4 linked regions of the Homo sapiens genome follow. The protein of the gene in region 1 interacts with the protein of each later gene in a biochemical or structural test. Each region holds a gene or a part of one and is shown in the gene's direction. Other genes may lie near its edges.

Region 1 (3,926 bases):
ATGGGTGGCAAGATATAGTTCTTTTAGGATTTAGAATAGGTTTGTTTTGGAGGGTGGAGTTTATACCTGATAGGTAGCTCTGTTACCATGAGCTATAGATACAGGTGACTGATTAGCTGAATGTCTCCTGGTCTGTTACTGACCACCAAGCAGGGTGGTAGGGTGGGTCCTGGGACCTTGCAGAACTGTGGCTTAGGATGATTTTTCTTCTCACCTCCTGCTCCTTATGAATTCCATCAAGGTGATAGTATGCCGTAAAGGAAAGACCATTAGACCAAGATTGACTAATCTAGTTATGAGATTTGAGAACCCAATTATTGACAAAATAATGTAGTGGCAGATTTTTTTTTTTTTTTGAGTTACTGGTTTGTTTATTATTTTTGGGATGGGGTCTCACTGTTACTCAGGTGTCCTTGAATTCCTGGTCTCACACAATCCTCCTGCCTCAGCCTCCCAGGTAGCTGGGACTACAGTAGTGATGGTTTTGAGAAACTTATTTTTTATTTATTTATGTTTTTGAGACGGAGTTTTGCTCTTGTTGCCCAGGCTGGAGTGCAATGGCGCCAGCTCGGCTCACCGCAACCTCTGCCTCCCGGGTTCAAGCGATTCTCCTACCTCAGCCTCCCGAGTAGCTGGGATTACAGGCATACGCCATCACGCCCGGCTAATTTTTTGTATTTTTAGTGGAGACGGGGTTTCTCCGTGGTGGCCAGGCTGTTCTTGAACTCCTGACCTCAGGTGATCCGCCCGCCTCGGCCTCCCAAAGTGCTGGGATTACAGGCAGGAGCCACCGCACCCGCCCGAAACTTATTTTTTTTAATAAGCTGCTACCTATTGAAAATTTTTGTGTGTGAGTTTCTTTTTTAAACAGAGTCTCTCTCTGTCACCCAGGCTGGAGTGCAGTGGCACGATCTCAGCTCATTACAACCTCAACTTCCCGGGTTCAAGTGATTCTTGTGCCTCAGCCTCCCGCATAGCTGGGATTATGGGCATGCGCCATCACACCCAGCTAATTTTTGTATTTTTAGTAGAGACGGCAGTTTGCCATTTTGGCCAGGCTGGTCTTGAACTTCTGGCCTCAAGTGATTCACCGGCCTTGGCCTCCCCAAGTGCTGGAATTACAGGCATAAGCCACAGTGCCTTGCCCCATTGAAATTTTTTAGTAGTATCTATTTAATGTGGAGTGTTTCATAGGGTGTGGCGTATTTTTGTAGTTTTCTCTGTAAATTGGAGGGCAATGAGTAAAGGCTTAATCTTAGTCTCAAGTTTTTAGTGAACAAATTTACAAAGAGAGATGAAGAGACTGGGCAGCAAGTCATGTCCTTTCCCTGCTGCCTTCATGAAAATAGCAACAGAAACAAAGTAAGTTCTTCCATGAAGCTATGGAATTTGTCGTGTTCCTGAGGCTTCCAGCCACCAAAATTAAGCCTCTTAAGGACTCAAAAGGAGCTAGTGGCCAGTGTCTCTTATATGCTTCTTCCTTTCTCCAGTCTTCTGACCTGTTCAGCGAGGTAGCCACTTGAAACTGTCCATCTGGCCATGGATCTCCTTAGAGGAGGCTTGCCCCTTCCCCATCACCAGTCATCCTTTGAATAAAATTTTGTAACAAAGCCAAATGCCAGCAGCCACTTAAACCTTCATGAGCACTGGCTAGACGTGGTGGGTCCTTCTGGTCTCCACCTGTCATGGTTGGGCAGAACAGCCCCCTGCGAGGTAAGGGAGCAGGACTGCTGTCTGTCAGTTCAAGTTCAGCCTTCGTTTCGGAGGCAAAGCGTTTATGCTTTAGCTTTCTTGTGCTTTTTCATCTCTTTTGCATTGTCTTTTGTTTTAAGTTGCCATGACATTCAGGGTTTCACCAGGTTTGAGATATAGTGCCTCTAAATTAGGGCTGTCTGTGATCACCCTGCTTTTATGAAGCTGTGTGTGTGAAACATCCCTGATGACAGGTCCCTCGGGAATTGGCTTTGCAGTTTATTTTTGGCTCCTACGCTGGCCAGCATTTCCATGGGGAAAGCTATTTAGGTGTAGCATCATGGCACGTGAAGTTTGTCTCACTTGTCTGGGTGCTGGGCCCATTAAAAGCAATTGTTCTTAGTGATGTAATGTGAAGAAGTTATATAAGGTTAACCAAGATGCAGGACTAAGTGAATCTAAATTGCGTTTTATTCAGATAGGATCACAGCACTTGTAGACTCTTAACAGCTGTTCTGTGATTTTATTCTTTGTCCCTTGATTTTTCCCCTTCTAGCCCTCGGGCCTCAGTGCCCTGATGGTGCTTCTGTCTGGCTGCTGCCTGACTCAAGGGTACTTTCCCCAGATGAAGGGTGTGTGTTTTGTACTGTGATTGGAAGCCAAAACCCTTGGGTGCTCTTCCTGGCTGTCACCTACTCTGAATGACCTTGACCAAGTCACTGCCTCATTTTCTCCCTCTGCAATGAAATAAGAGGTCTATCTTCCTAACCCCGATATGATCCTGCTCGGATGGAATAACCAGAAGTGTAGCTGGGTCAAGCCTAGGATGGCCACTTGGTTATTAGCAGACAGCATTCTGATGTCTGTCAGAGAGAGCCAGCCCTGTGCCTTCAGAAGATCACTTCCATGAGAAAGAGGGTGATGCTGCACCAAAGAGGCACCTTGGGAAGCAAAAGGTGCACGAGGCGGGTTGTGGGGAAGGTGGTTGTTTCAGGGGCATAGGAATTCCTAATGGCTCGTGTTGCTAGTGACCAGATGGATTATAGGTTTGACTTTATTAAACCTCTTCTAGAAATACTCATGAACTTCCTACCTCTGTTACTTTGTGAGAAATTCAGTAATGCACATTTAAAGTAACCCCGGCCGTCCTCCAGGAGGGGGATGGAATGAATCTGTATGTATGTATGTATGTTTCCAGAGTCTGAAAGGTCTCTTGAAATTCTCAAGACTGGTAATGAGATTATAAATTACAAAGATGATAGAGTATTGCTTTATATTTTAAGGTAATAAGAGCAGTCATGATCCAGGATACTGTTACTGTGTGCCAGGCACTCTTAGTGCTTTAGATGTTTTACTTCACGCTCACAACAACCCTGTGGTGCTATTATTAGCCCCATATTCCAGAGAAGGAAGCTGAGGAACAGAGAGGTTAAGTAAATTGCCCAGTGTCACACTTCTAAGTGGAGGAATCTGAATACAAATTGAACTAAATGTACTTTGTTCTCACCTGAGAATACTTAAGTTCAGGATTCAGAGATCATTACTATACGTGACCGAGTGCCCTGATCCAACATGAATCACAAGCCTTGTGGTTGGCATTAATCATCCCTTCTTTAAACAGTTGAAAGTCTTAGTGTAATAGGAGGTACTACAAGTGAGGAAGGAGAGAGGCACAGGATGTTGGGATAGGTGGAAGTTGTGCCAGTGGGCAGGCAGGAGGGAGGGAGATGATGGGTAGGGAGCAGGACGGGAGGAACACTGCATTCGCACTGGCGGTGTGCTTCTGCAGATTCCACTCTTTTCATTCCCTGACCCCTCAGTCATTCTCAAAATAACTGTCAAAAACACATTGCATTTCTAGAGAACCTTTGACTGCCCCTCAATGTTGAATGAAGCAACCTCTGTAGTCTGATTCATTCCAACACTGAACTGCAGTTCAGTTTTATTCCCCAACTCCACCTCCTAGAGCAAAACAAGTGTGCAGACACTCCACGTAACTGGCATTTCTGTGTTGCCTCAGAAGTGGTCAGCTCCATTAGGAGCTCCAACTTGACCTCCTGTCCGCTCTGCTGCTGTCATCCTTCGGCTGGGAATGCTGAGTCATGAGACAGGTTCAGGAAGGATTCCTTGGAGAGGCTGAGTTCCACCTCAATTTCAGTTTCTGTTCCCTTCAGTTTCCGTGTGTTTTTGCTTTAGGACATTAGAGGCCTCTTTGCACCTTCCCCATCTCTACT
Region 2 (4,472 bases), on another chromosome or scaffold:
GAGGCCAGGCTGCAGAACCCTGCTGCTGACTCCCGCCCCATCCAGGCATCTCCACGCTGCTGGTGCTGCCTACAGGTGCCGGCAAGTCCCTGTGCTACCAGCTCCCAGCGCTGCTCTACAGCCGGCGCAGCCCCTGCCTCACGTTGGTCGTCTCTCCCCTGCTGTCACTCATGGATGACCAGGTGTGCACACAGGGCCCTGGGCACACGTACACAGCCAAGAACCAGCACTTGTGACTCCCAAGGGCAACTGCTGCTTGTCCCCTAACCACCCCCTCCCCTGGGAGCTTCAAGGTGTCTGTGGCCTCAGTCCCAGTCTTGGCAGCAGGTCAAAGGCAGCCCAGCTCCACAGGCACCACAGCCACCCCTACGGGAAATGTGCTGGGAAAGGAGCCATCCCTACTTCAGTCTGTCTGCTCTGGGGCTCCTGGGCCAAGGCCCACAGGTGGCTCTAAACCCTTAGCCCTAGGACCCAGGACCTGGTTCTCCTCTCCCCTGAGGGACTAGGATGGACATGGCAGCAGCTCTGGGATGACTTGGGGAAGGGCCAGGGCTGGGCTGGCGTATGACGGCTGTCGCTCCTGCATTTGCAGGTGTCTGGCCTGCCACCGTGTCTCAAGGCGGCCTGCATACACTCGGGCATGACCAGGAAGCAACGGGAATCTGTCCTGCAGAAGGTGGGGGCCTCATGGGCCTAGGGGTGAGGGAGGCAGCGGGCGGGCACCTGGGCTGTGCCTCTGATCTTGCTGCCTTCAGATTCGGGCAGCCCAGGTACACGTGCTGATGCTGACACCTGAGGCACTGGTGGGGGCGGGAGGCCTCCCTCCAGCCGCACAGCTGCCTCCAGTTGCTTTTGCCTGCATTGATGAGGCCCACTGCCTCTCCCAGTGGTCCCACAACTTCCGGCCCTGCTACCTGCGCGTCTGCAAGGTGAGCCATATGTGAACTGGGGTGGGCGGCCAGGGCCGGGATGGGCTGGGCGGCCTCACACCACTGCCGCCTCTGGTGCAGGTGCTTCGGGAGCGCATGGGCGTGCACTGCTTCCTGGGCCTCACAGCCACAGCCACACGCCGCACTGCCAGTGACGTGGCACAGCACCTGGCTGTGGCTGAAGAGCCTGACCTCCACGGGCCAGCCCCAGTTCCCACCAACCTGCACCTTTCCGTGTCCATGGACAGGGACACAGACCAGGTGGGTGTGTGTGCTCTGGGGACCCTGCAGGGCCCTGGCTGCTGACTGCCCACGCCGACCCCTCCTCACTCCCCACCGCCCACGCCGACCCCTTCTCACTCCCCACCGCCCACGCCGACCCCTCCTCACTCCCCACGCCGACCCCTCCTCACTCCCCACTGCACACGCCGACCCCTCCTCACTCCCCACTGCCCACGCCAACCGCTCCTCATCAGGCACTGTTGACGCTGCTGCAAGGCAAACGTTTTCAAAACCTCGATTCCATTATCATTTACTGCAACCGGCGCGAGGACACAGAGCGGATCGCTGCGCTCCTCCGAACCTGCCTGCACGCAGCCTGGGTCCCAGGGTCTGGAGGTGCGGCATGGACAGAGCTGGTGTCCCCGTGGACCCACCTTGGGCACACATGGTCCCATCCCACTGACCATCTGCCTGTCTTCCCCAAAGGTCGTGCCCCCAAAACCACAGCCGAGGCCTACCACGCGGGCATGTGCAGCCGGGAACGGCGGCGGGTACAGCGAGCCTTCATGCAGGGCCAGTTGCGGGTGGTGGTGGCCACGGTGGCCTTTGGGATGGGGCTGGACCGGCCAGATGTGCGGGCTGTGCTGCATCTGGGGCTGCCCCCAAGCTTCGAGAGCTACGTGCAGGCCGTGGGCCGGGCCGGGCGTGACGGGCAGCCTGCCCACTGCCACCTCTTCCTGCAGCCCCAGGTTGGCACCCCCCCCCCCCACACTGCCAGTGCTCGAGCCCCCAGTGGTCCACCCCACCCTCATGAAAGTTGCCCTGCAGGGCGAAGACCTGCGAGAGCTGCGCAGACATGTGCACGCCGACAGCACGGACTTCCTGGCTGTGAAGAGGCTGGTACAGCGCGTGTTCCCAGCCTGCACCTGCACCTGCACCAGGCCGCCCTCGGAGCAGGAAGGGGCCGTGGGTGGGGAGAGGCCTGTGCCCAAGTACCCCCCTCAAGAGGCTGAGCAGCTTAGCCACCAAGCAGCCCCAGGACCCAGAAGGGTCTGCATGGGCCATGAGCGGGCACTCCCAATACAGCTTACCGTACAGGCTTTGGACATGCCGGAGGAGGGTGAGGAACCTGGGGTAAGCCACAGGGGTGTGGAGGGGCTGTCCCCGCGTCCGCTGAGCCCTGCTCTGCCCCCAGCCATCGAGACTTTGCTGTGCTACCTGGAGCTGCACCCACACCACTGGCTGGAGCTGCTGGCGACCACCTATACCCATTGCCGTCTGAACTGCCCTGGGGGCCCTGCCCAGCTCCAGGCCCTGGCCCACAGGTAAGCACGCCCTGCCCAGTTGGAGACGAGGTTGGAGAATCAGGGCTGTTGGCCACATGTCCCTTTTTCCCTGGGCACAGGTGTCCCCCTTTGGCTGTGTGCTTGGCCCAGCAGCTGCCTGAGGACCCAGGGCAAGGCAGCAGCTCCGTGGAGTTTGACATGGTCAAGCTGGTGGACTCCATGGGCTGGGAGCTGGCCTCTGTGCGGCGGGCTCTCTGCCAGCTGCAGTGGGACCACGAGCCCAGGACAGGTGCGCCTCTCCCCACCCCACACCGCCCTGGACGCTGCCTGCCTGCATCTGACATGCTTTCCGGCAGGTGTGCGGCGTGGGACAGGGGTGCTTGTGGAGTTCAGTGAGCTGGCCTTCCACCTTCGCAGCCCGGGGGACTTGACCGCTGAGGAGAAGGACCAGATATGTGACTTCCTCTATGGCCGTGTGCAGGCCCGGGAGCGCCAGGCCCTGGCCCGTCTGCGCAGAACCTTCCAGGCCTTTCACAGGTTGGGAGGAGGCGGGCGGGGCCTGGGACCATCCACCCTCCCGCAGTGATCAGCTCTGACAGGCTCCTCCCCACAGCGTAGCCTTCCCCAGCTGCGGGCCCTGCCTGGAGCAGCAGGATGAGGAGCGCAGCACCAGGCTCAAGGACCTGCTCGGCCGCTACTTTGAGGAAGAGGAAGGGCAGGAGCCGGGAGGCATGGAGGACGCACAGGGCCCCGAGCCAGGGCAGGCCAGAGTGAGTGCAGTAAGGCCAGGCAGCTCATCGGGGTTGCAGGTTCCCTGGGCTGCATGGGGCTTGCTCTGTGGATGCAGTGCCACGGGAGCTCAGAGGAAGCCTGATGTGCCTGTCCACACAGCTCCAGGATTGGGAGGACCAGGTCCGCTGCGACATCCGCCAGTTCCTGTCCCTGAGGCCAGAGGAGAAGTTCTCCAGCAGGGCTGTGGCCCGCATCTTCCACGGCATCGGTGAGGCCTGGGAGGCCCCACCCGCTGCAGGCTGGGGCTGGGGGCTGGGGCAGGTGAGGCCTGGGAGGCTCCACCCGCTGCAGGCTGGGGCTGGGGCTCACGGCTGTGTCTTGGCTCCACCGTAGGAAGCCCCTGCTACCCGGCCCAGGTGTACGGGCAGGACCGACGCTTCTGGAGAAAATACCTGCACCTGAGCTTCCATGCCCTGGTGGGCCTGGCCACGGAAGAGCTCCTGCAGGTGGCCCGCTGACTGCACTGCATTGGGGGATGTCGGGTAGAGCTGGGGTTGTCAGAGGCTAGGGCAGTGACTGAGGACCTGGGCAAAACCTGCCACAGGGTGTGGGAACGAGGAGGCTCCAAAATGCAGAATAAAAAATGCTCACTTTGTTTTTATGGGCCCTCTTGGCCAATGAGGCAACCCCCACAAGCTGGGGACAAGCACATCACATATTCCAGGCACAGAGACATCTGGGCCACAGGCACATGTGGCTTTATTGACCACTCCAGCCACTCAGCTCAGAGAAAGGTGCTGGGTGCTAGGTCCAGGTACAGAACGGGAAAGGCAGAGAGGATGAGCAGGAGCAAGAAGCAGGGATGTGGCCCCAACCCATCAGCCAGGCCTCCGGCCAGAGTGCCCAGCAGCAGCTTCCCCAGCAGCTCCAGCGTGGCCAGAAGGCTGTAGTGTGTGGCCTGAGGGGGGTGGGGGTCACGGTCAAGGTCAGGCCCACACAGCCCCAGCCCCGTGGTCTCTCTTGTGTCCCTGCTACATCTACTCACCTGCAGGGCCCTGGGGGCCAGCTGGCTGCAGCGCATCATCCCAGTGAAGGTGACTGTGGTGACCAGGCCTCCCAAGAAGTGCTGCAGACATAGGCTCAGCAAGGCTGACCCTGGGAGGGCAGAAGTCAGCAGTGCCCCAGGCTCCTGGCCCCTCTCTTCCTCCTCAAGGCCAGCCCCTCACCTCTCAAGATTGTGCCAGCGTCCATGCTGGCCCCCAGGGTGTCCAGGTGGAAGACCAAGGCAGTCTGACAGGCTAGG
Region 3 (3,351 bases), on another chromosome or scaffold:
AAAAATACAAAATTTAGCCAGGCGTGGTGGCAGGTGCCTGTAATTCCAACTACTCGAGAGGCTGAGGCAGGAGAATTGCTTGAACCCGGGAGGCAGAGGTGGCAGTGAGCCCAGATCGCGCCCTGTACTCCAGCCTGGGCGACAGAGCGAGACTCCATCTCAAAAAAATAAAATAAAATAAAATAAAATATATATATATATATACACACACACACACACACACACACACACACTCTTCATACATATTTGTGTTTATATATGCTTATATATATTAAATATCACAATAGGAAAGTTTCTTACCCTTTCATTTAGAATTGCTTTAATAGTTCATTAAGTTTTAATGTATTGCTCAATAATTTTGATTGAATATATTTTACGATACATGATATAATAATGATATATTTATGATATGATAAAATATTTATGATATTTTAGAGAAACAAGTGGTTTTATAATGTCACACCATATAACATATTATTTACATCATAAATATACAACCATGCAATATGTGCTGAAAATGGCACAAACCTAAGTGGAAAGTATGAAGATAAAAGTGTTGTAAGTTTTCTCCTTTATTTTCCACAGATCTGTAATTTATGATCTTTAAAACAAGCCAGAAAGGATTAGGAAAACAGGAGATTTTGCATGTCGGCAAGTTATCTTAAAACAAATGCCTATTCCTATATATTCATAAATATTTTAAATTAGTGAAAGTTCTCATGCCAGGTTTCTAATAATAAAAGTGAGACAGCACCGAACCAATTACTTGGAAAATTTGGCAGGAAAAATCAATTAACAAGATAATTGGTAAGAGTGAGTAATGGAGCACCTTCAACGCTAGGTGGGATTCAAGCAAAGAAACTGCGTTTGCCGGGGTTTTCCAGGAAATTTGGACAGAAACAGTTCTCTGTACATCCTCATACAAATCACTTCCTCCTCCCTTCAGTTCCCCCACAGCGACTGAAGCAGGGCTGTGTGCACTCCAGAAACTCATGGAGTCTATGTTTAACAAGTGAGGGAGGTGAATAATTCCAAAATAAGTTCCAAGATAAGGGACTTTTCCTCTTATGCTGAAAATAACCTGTTCTGTGAATGACAGGACATTGGAATCACACAGACCTTGGTGAGATCATTGTCTTCACCATTTAAAAGTGCTTCACCTTGGGGAAATTCTATAGCAGAGTGATGCTCTTATCTCAAAGTGCTTTGGGAAGCAAATGAGATAATATACATAGAACACCTAGCATTATTAATTACTTCCTTTCTATCCCTCTCATCTTAATTAAAATTTTGGATAGCATTAAGGAACATATTCCCTATTAAAAATAATATGCTGGCTGGGTGCGGTAGCTCACGCCTGTAATCCCAGCACTTTGGGAGGCCGAGGCGGGAGGATGACTTGAGGTCAGGAGTTTGAGACCAGCCTGGCCAACATGGCAAAACCCTGTCTCTACGAAAAATTCAAAAATTAGCTGGGCATGTTGGTGGGCGCCTGTAATCCCAGCTACTCGGGAGGCTGAGGCCAGAGAATCACTTGAACCTGGGAGGTGGGGGTTGCAGTGAGCCAAGATCTCGCCACTGCACTCCAGCCTGGACGACAAGAGCAAAACTCCATCTCAAAAAAAAAAATAGAAATAATAATAATTACAATATGCTATCCCAGTTCCTGTTTTATGAATTTGGCCAAGCCAAGTAAGTGGCACTATAGAAAGAGCAAAAATAAATCAAAATATATTTAAATTATTATACATTATATTAGGTTATATCATCAAATTTTATCAATATATTTAAATATAAATATATTTATATATATTTTAAATATAAATATATAAAAATATATTTATATATATTTTAAATATAAATATATAAAAATATATTTATATATATTTTAAATATAAATATATAAAATATATTTATATATATTTTAAATATAAATATATAAAATATATTTATATATATTTTAAATATAAATATATAAAATATATTTATATATATTTTAAATATAAATATATAAAATATATTTATATATATTTTAAATATAAATATATAAAATATATTTATATATATTTTAAATATAAATATATAAAAATATATATATTTTAAATATAAATATATAAAAATATATATATTTTAAATATAAATATATAAAAATATATATATTTTAAATATAAATATATAAAAATATATATATTTTAAATATAAATATATAAAAATATATATATTTTAAATATAAATATATAAAAATATATATATTTTAAATATAAATATATAAAAATATATATATTTTAAATATAAATATATAAAAATATATATATTTTAAATATAAATATATAAAAATATATATATTTTAAATATAAATATATAAAAATATATTTATATATTTTAAATATAAATATATTAATATTTGAATATATTTAAATGAGGAATTGACCCCTATCTATGAAACATGAAGTGTTTGTCTCTAAATCCCCTTTCAGGAGAATAAAGTCAGATTTACAAATAAAATTTGTTCCCGACAAAAGTGACATGCTTCAATTTCATTCATTTCTTAATGAATATCATCACTTTAGAGCTGCCCTATTGTGCTTTATGAAGTTTTTCCCCTCAGTTAAGTTTCTCTCTGCCCTTGTATTGCTTGTGATTATTCGCTCAGAAAGTGATGTCTAGGCTAGCGTGCTGGTTTGGGAATGCGTGTTTTCCAGGTACTTGCTGCGAACCCACCACACCTTTGTTTTCTGCCCCCAACAGGAGGCTGCATGCACATGAAGTGTCCGCAGCCCCAGTGCAGGCTCGAGTGGTGCTGGAACTGTGGCTGCGAGTGGAACCGCGTCTGCATGGGGGACCACTGGTTCGACGTGTAGCCAGGGCGGCCGGGCGCCCCATCGCCACATCCTGGGGGAGCATACCCAGTGTCTACCTTCATTTTCTAATTCTCTTTTCAAACACACACACACACGCGCGCGCGCGCACACACACTCTTCAAGTTTTTTTCAAAGTCCAACTACAGCCAAATTGCAGAAGAAACTCCTGGATCCCTTTCACTATGTCCATGAAAAACAGCAGAGTAAAATTACAGAAGAAGCTCCTGAATCCCTTTCAGTTTGTCCACACAAGACAGCAGAGCCATCTGCGACACCACCAACAGGCGTTCTCAGCCTCCGGATGACACAAATACCAGAGCACAGATTCAAGTGCAATCCATGTATCTGTATGGGTCATTCTCACCTGAATTCGAGACAGGCAGAATCAGTAGCTGGAGAGAGAGTTCTCACATTTAATATCCTGCCTTTTACCTTCAGTAAACACCATGAAGATGCCATTGACAAGGTGTTTCTCTGTAAAATGAACTGC
Region 4 (3,926 bases), on another chromosome or scaffold:
TAGCTCTCTTGCTTCTTTTCGCCGCTGCTGTTTGGCTCTAAATGACGTGATGCCAACGGCCCCCAGATTTCCCCGAGAGCTTGGGGCGCCGCGCCGTGCCCAGTTTGGCTGCAGAGACCCCGCTCCAGGCCCTCGCCCCGTCCCCAACAGCTCGAACAGGCTGGGGTGACCTCCGGCAAACTCCGTGCGACCATCCGCCAGGCCCTCTGTTATCCCCCTTGCAAAGAGAAGCGGTCCACGGGGGCCACTTTATCCCACCCCCTCTCCTCCCCTCCTCCTGCCCGGTCTAGGTCTCTGGGTACGGAAAACGGCGGGCCCTACATCTGCCTCGTTTTATGGGGGGCGCTTCTTCGCGCTGGCGGCGCTCGTCGTTGTTTTCTGCTCGCTGCACACAATGCCCGCGCGTCACGGCAATCCGCGTGTGCACAGCAATAACGCGAGTCGGGGGGCGGGTCGTGCGTGCGCCCGGCTCGGGCACTGCGGGTCGCTCGGCGCGCGCGGGGCTTGTTTTGCTCCAGAGCTCTGCTTTCCGAAACGCTTACATCATTCAGTCGTTGGGGGAGGGAGAGGGATCTGGGCGTTCCGATAGGATTCCAGCATCTACCGGGTCCCTGGTTTCTGGAAGGAAGCAGGGACCCTAGCTTTTTAGTAGTTATTATTGGGGGTGGGGTTGGGTAGTTTGTTGTGTACGTCTTTTTTTTTTTTTTTTTCGGTCACTACTGCAAAAGGGCATCGTTGGCCGACTCAGGTGCACAACCTCCCCGCCTTCATTTCAGCGAGTTCCCCTATAATCACTTGATCTCGGTTTCTCCGCCTTCTCCTCCTCCCCCTCCCAGCTAGAGACACATGGTTTCCACATGGAGACAAACTTCTTTCCTCCGACTGGACTTGACCTAGCTGCGTCGTTCAGCCAATCGGCAGCTCCAGCCTCTTCTGACGTCACGCGTTGCTGGGGCCGGAGGCTGGGTGGGGGGTGGAGCCAGGCTGCAAGCCAGGAAATCTCTGGGAGCTGTAGTGCGGCCAGCTGGTCCAGTCTCTTCTTAAAGGGACGCTCTTCTGTCCGGAGATGAGTGTCGGGCCCCGATTCTCCATTTCGGGTTCGGTGAGACCTTTCTGAGATGCATGGTGGACCCTGGTCACGAGTTAACACGTTCCGTTTTTACTGCTGTTTGCGAAGTACTTACTTGGCAGGAGCTTGCCTTATTTTCCATCGTAGCCAGAACTGCTTTTCGTTCCCTTGTTGAGGTTTCCGTACTGGTAGTGTTCACCAAGTTGTGGCCACATGGCTGAATTACTTCCAGTGGAGAGGTTGAGTTTTCTTGGAGGAGGGGTTCAAATTAAGTCACATTGTTGACTGTCTGCTGTGTGCAAGGCAGGGGGGATTCCCTAGGAAAGGCAGGTACATTCTCCCAAAACTCCAACTGATGTGAATCTCTACGGATCACAAATTGAAGGCCTCCAGAAATATTAATCATGAAGGCTGTGATCCTATTACCACAAATTCAGAAATTATATGTAAATAATCTCTGACATCATCACCTATATGCATTTTGAGTCCAGTGGAAGGGTGGGAATTAAGGACTGACTAATAAGTAGAAAAAGATCTTGGAAAAGGTTAAAACTAAAAGAGAAGAACAGATCCATAAAGGGATGTTATGTGCATAAGAGCCGACTGGCAGGTAAGTGAAACAAGCTGTGAGAGCAGGTAAGGTCTGGAGGAGAGAAATGGGCTTCCTAGTGTCTGGAGGAGGTTGCTTTGGAGGCAACACTTAAGATAGGGAAGGACGATCAGATGAGAGTAGAAAGCCATAAGGCTCCTTGGAGTGGATCACCTGGGTTTGAGGGTGGGGTGCTTTCCTAGGGGCACGGACAGCCCAAGAAACAGCCTGTTCCTCCTGGTAGAGGAAGCTGCTGTTGTGTGGTGTCATTTGGCCCCACCCTGCCTTCTGACTTAATCTCCTCTTCCTTGCCCTGAAACCTCTGTGTCTGTACAGCAGATCCACCAGCAAGCAGGCTTCACAGTCGAACCTCTGTGCTCGACTTAGACTCTTCCACTGTCTAGAATGCTTTCATTCTCTTACTCCCCTAGGGATATCTGTATCCTACCTTCTCTTCAAGACTTAGATCAGTTTCCACCTCCTCCAGGAAGCTTCCCCTAGCTATTTCAGCCCATTTGGCTCTATTTGTTAAGTCATTGTACTTGAGAGAATGAAACCTTTGCAGTCACATGGAGCAGGGCCCAGCTTGCTACTCTACTGCTTACTGGCTTTGTGACTTTGGACACAACTTACTTAGCCTGAGGTTCCATTTCCTTTTTGCAAAATGGGGATAACAATAGTATGACCCTCATATCATTGTCAAACAACTCAATGAGGCACTGCACTTAAATATTTAACGTACCTGAGATATAATAGGTGCTCAATAAATAGCAACTTCTCTGAGCTTTGATAATCAGTACCATGCACTTCTCTACTTGCTTCCTGTGTGTTAGCTTTACCTTTACAAGGAGTTTATTAGTAACTTAAGAGAAAAGATCACTTACAGTATTCAATGCATGTTACCCATTGCATATAGCACACCACTGGGCATACAGTAGTAGATCCTTAATATAAATGTTTTGATTGGTTAGATTTGTCATTTACTGCTAGCTATGGCACGAGGATCAGGTTTGGAGGCCAGGGGACACGTGACAGCCTTTCCGAAGATTTGGAGACGAGTCAGAAATACTGATCTCCAACTCCCTTGGGTGGTGAGACCAATCCCTGCAAGAAGATGATAGTTCAGACCTGAAGAGCTGAGACTGCATCCTGTGAACAGCTGTGACCCTGAGAAACAAATAAGAAAGAAGGAGACTAGAGTGACTTCTGCTGAAATCGAGGGCTTTGATGGCAACTAATGTTCAAGCTGGTCACGTTTTTGCATGGCAGCAATCTTATGAATTCATACATTCTTCAAATGTACATTGAATGTCTACTATGTGCAGATGCTTCTTTCTGAAAACTCTGTAGGTTGAAGTATGGTGGGGGTGGAGTAGGGTATTTGTCTTTAGTGGAGTTATGTGAAGAGCATTCTTAAATCAGGCCCTATTTCCTCTGCATCCCAAATTATGTTCCCCAGATTCAACTTATTTTTTCCAGTTTTAAATATGATCTCTGCTGACTGGTAAATACCAGAAGAAGGCTTTTTTGAGGATATTGTTACGGCTTTCAGAATCACGGAGCTCCCAAGGACTGTGTGTCCTGGAAAGGAGATCCAGGGAAAGGGGACAGGGCCTTGGAAGTTAGAGAAGTTGAATTGAGCCATTCCTGGTTTGGGAGCAAAAAGGAGGCTCCATTAGCTACCAAGGCAAAACAGTAGCTGCTCATCCATCTCTCATCTCTGATGGAAACAGTCTCCCACTGACACATCCAGAAATGGGGATTCATCTGGAGATGCCTGGGCAAAAGTCTAGAGGTGAAACTGAGGAAAATGAAGAGGGTGCTGGCGTGCAGCAGCAGCAACTAATTGTATGGCATAATATCAATAATGGCTACAATTTATTGAACACTGACTATATTCCAAGTATGGGGCTATGCATTCATTATCTCCCCTGATCTTCACAACAACCTTCTGATGGATGCAATTTTATTACCCTCTTTTACGGAGGAGGGAACTGAGGAGCAGGGATGCCAGGTAATTTGCCCAAAGGATATATAGCTAGTAAGTCGCGGAGCTGAGTTTTGAACTTAGGCCTCTGATTCCAGAGCCTGTGCTCTTAACCATATACACATGTACTCATTTCACAGCCAAGGAATGAAGTCCAGAGAAGTGAAATGACTTACTCAAGGTCACCCAGGAACCTGAAGCAGAGCTGGTATTTGAAACACCTTGTTTATTGTCCAAGGTCTTCCTGCACACACCTTGCTTAGAAAAGGTTTCGAAGTGAG

What was found.
Region 2: the proteins of UBE2O (region 1) and RECQL4 form a complex in vitro, tested with the Homo sapiens proteins (one study listed by BioGRID).
Region 3: the proteins of UBE2O (region 1) and PRKN form a complex in vitro, tested with the Homo sapiens proteins (one study listed by BioGRID).
Region 4: the proteins of UBE2O (region 1) and MXI1 form a complex in vitro, tested with the Homo sapiens proteins (one study listed by BioGRID).

What each region holds. Positions count from the first base shown.
Region 1 is NC_000017.11:76,446,513-76,450,438, reverse strand, and holds part of UBE2O ((E3-independent) E2 ubiquitin-conjugating enzyme), read left to right. Parts: intron 1-3,926. UniProt on the Homo sapiens protein: E2/E3 hybrid ubiquitin-protein ligase that displays both E2 and E3 ligase activities and mediates monoubiquitination of target proteins. Negatively regulates TRAF6-mediated NF-kappa-B activation independently of its E2 activity.
Region 2 is NC_000008.11:144,510,646-144,515,117, reverse strand, and holds the end of RECQL4 (ATP-dependent DNA helicase Q4), read left to right. Parts: intron 1-45; coding exon 46-182; intron 183-592; coding exon 593-676; intron 677-755; coding exon 756-929; intron 930-1,010; coding exon 1,011-1,190; intron 1,191-1,405; coding exon 1,406-1,547; intron 1,548-1,637; coding exon 1,638-1,900; intron 1,901-1,979; coding exon 1,980-2,271; coding exon of another isoform or gene 2,272-2,346; coding exon 2,347-2,476; intron 2,477-2,556; coding exon 2,557-2,726; intron 2,727-2,793; coding exon 2,794-2,974; intron 2,975-3,050; coding exon 3,051-3,207; coding exon of another isoform or gene 3,208-3,216; intron 3,217-3,328; coding exon 3,329-3,437; intron 3,438-3,562; coding exon 3,563-3,687; 3' UTR 3,688-3,830; downstream 3,831-4,472. Other genes in the region: SLC33A2 (major facilitator superfamily domain-containing protein 3), read right to left, coding at 3,954-4,324, 4,396-4,472. UniProt on the Homo sapiens protein: An ATP-dependent DNA helicase which unwinds dsDNA with a 3'-overhang in a 3'-5' direction. Does not unwind more than 18 bp of dsDNA. May modulate chromosome segregation. The N-terminal domain (residues 1-54) binds DNA Y-shaped DNA better than ss- or dsDNA.
Region 3 is NC_000006.12:161,349,609-161,352,959, reverse strand, and holds part of PRKN (E3 ubiquitin-protein ligase parkin), read left to right. Parts: intron 1-2,748; coding exon 2,749-2,861; 3' UTR 2,862-3,351. UniProt on the Homo sapiens protein: Functions within a multiprotein E3 ubiquitin ligase complex, catalyzing the covalent attachment of ubiquitin moieties onto substrate proteins. Substrates include SYT11 and VDAC1.
Region 4 is NC_000010.11:110,210,381-110,214,306, forward strand, and holds part of MXI1 (max-interacting protein 1), read left to right. Parts: intron 1-2,487; exon of another isoform or gene 2,488-3,926. UniProt on the Homo sapiens protein: Transcriptional repressor. MXI1 binds with MAX to form a sequence-specific DNA-binding protein complex which recognizes the core sequence 5'-CAC[GA]TG-3'. MXI1 thus antagonizes MYC transcriptional activity by competing for MAX.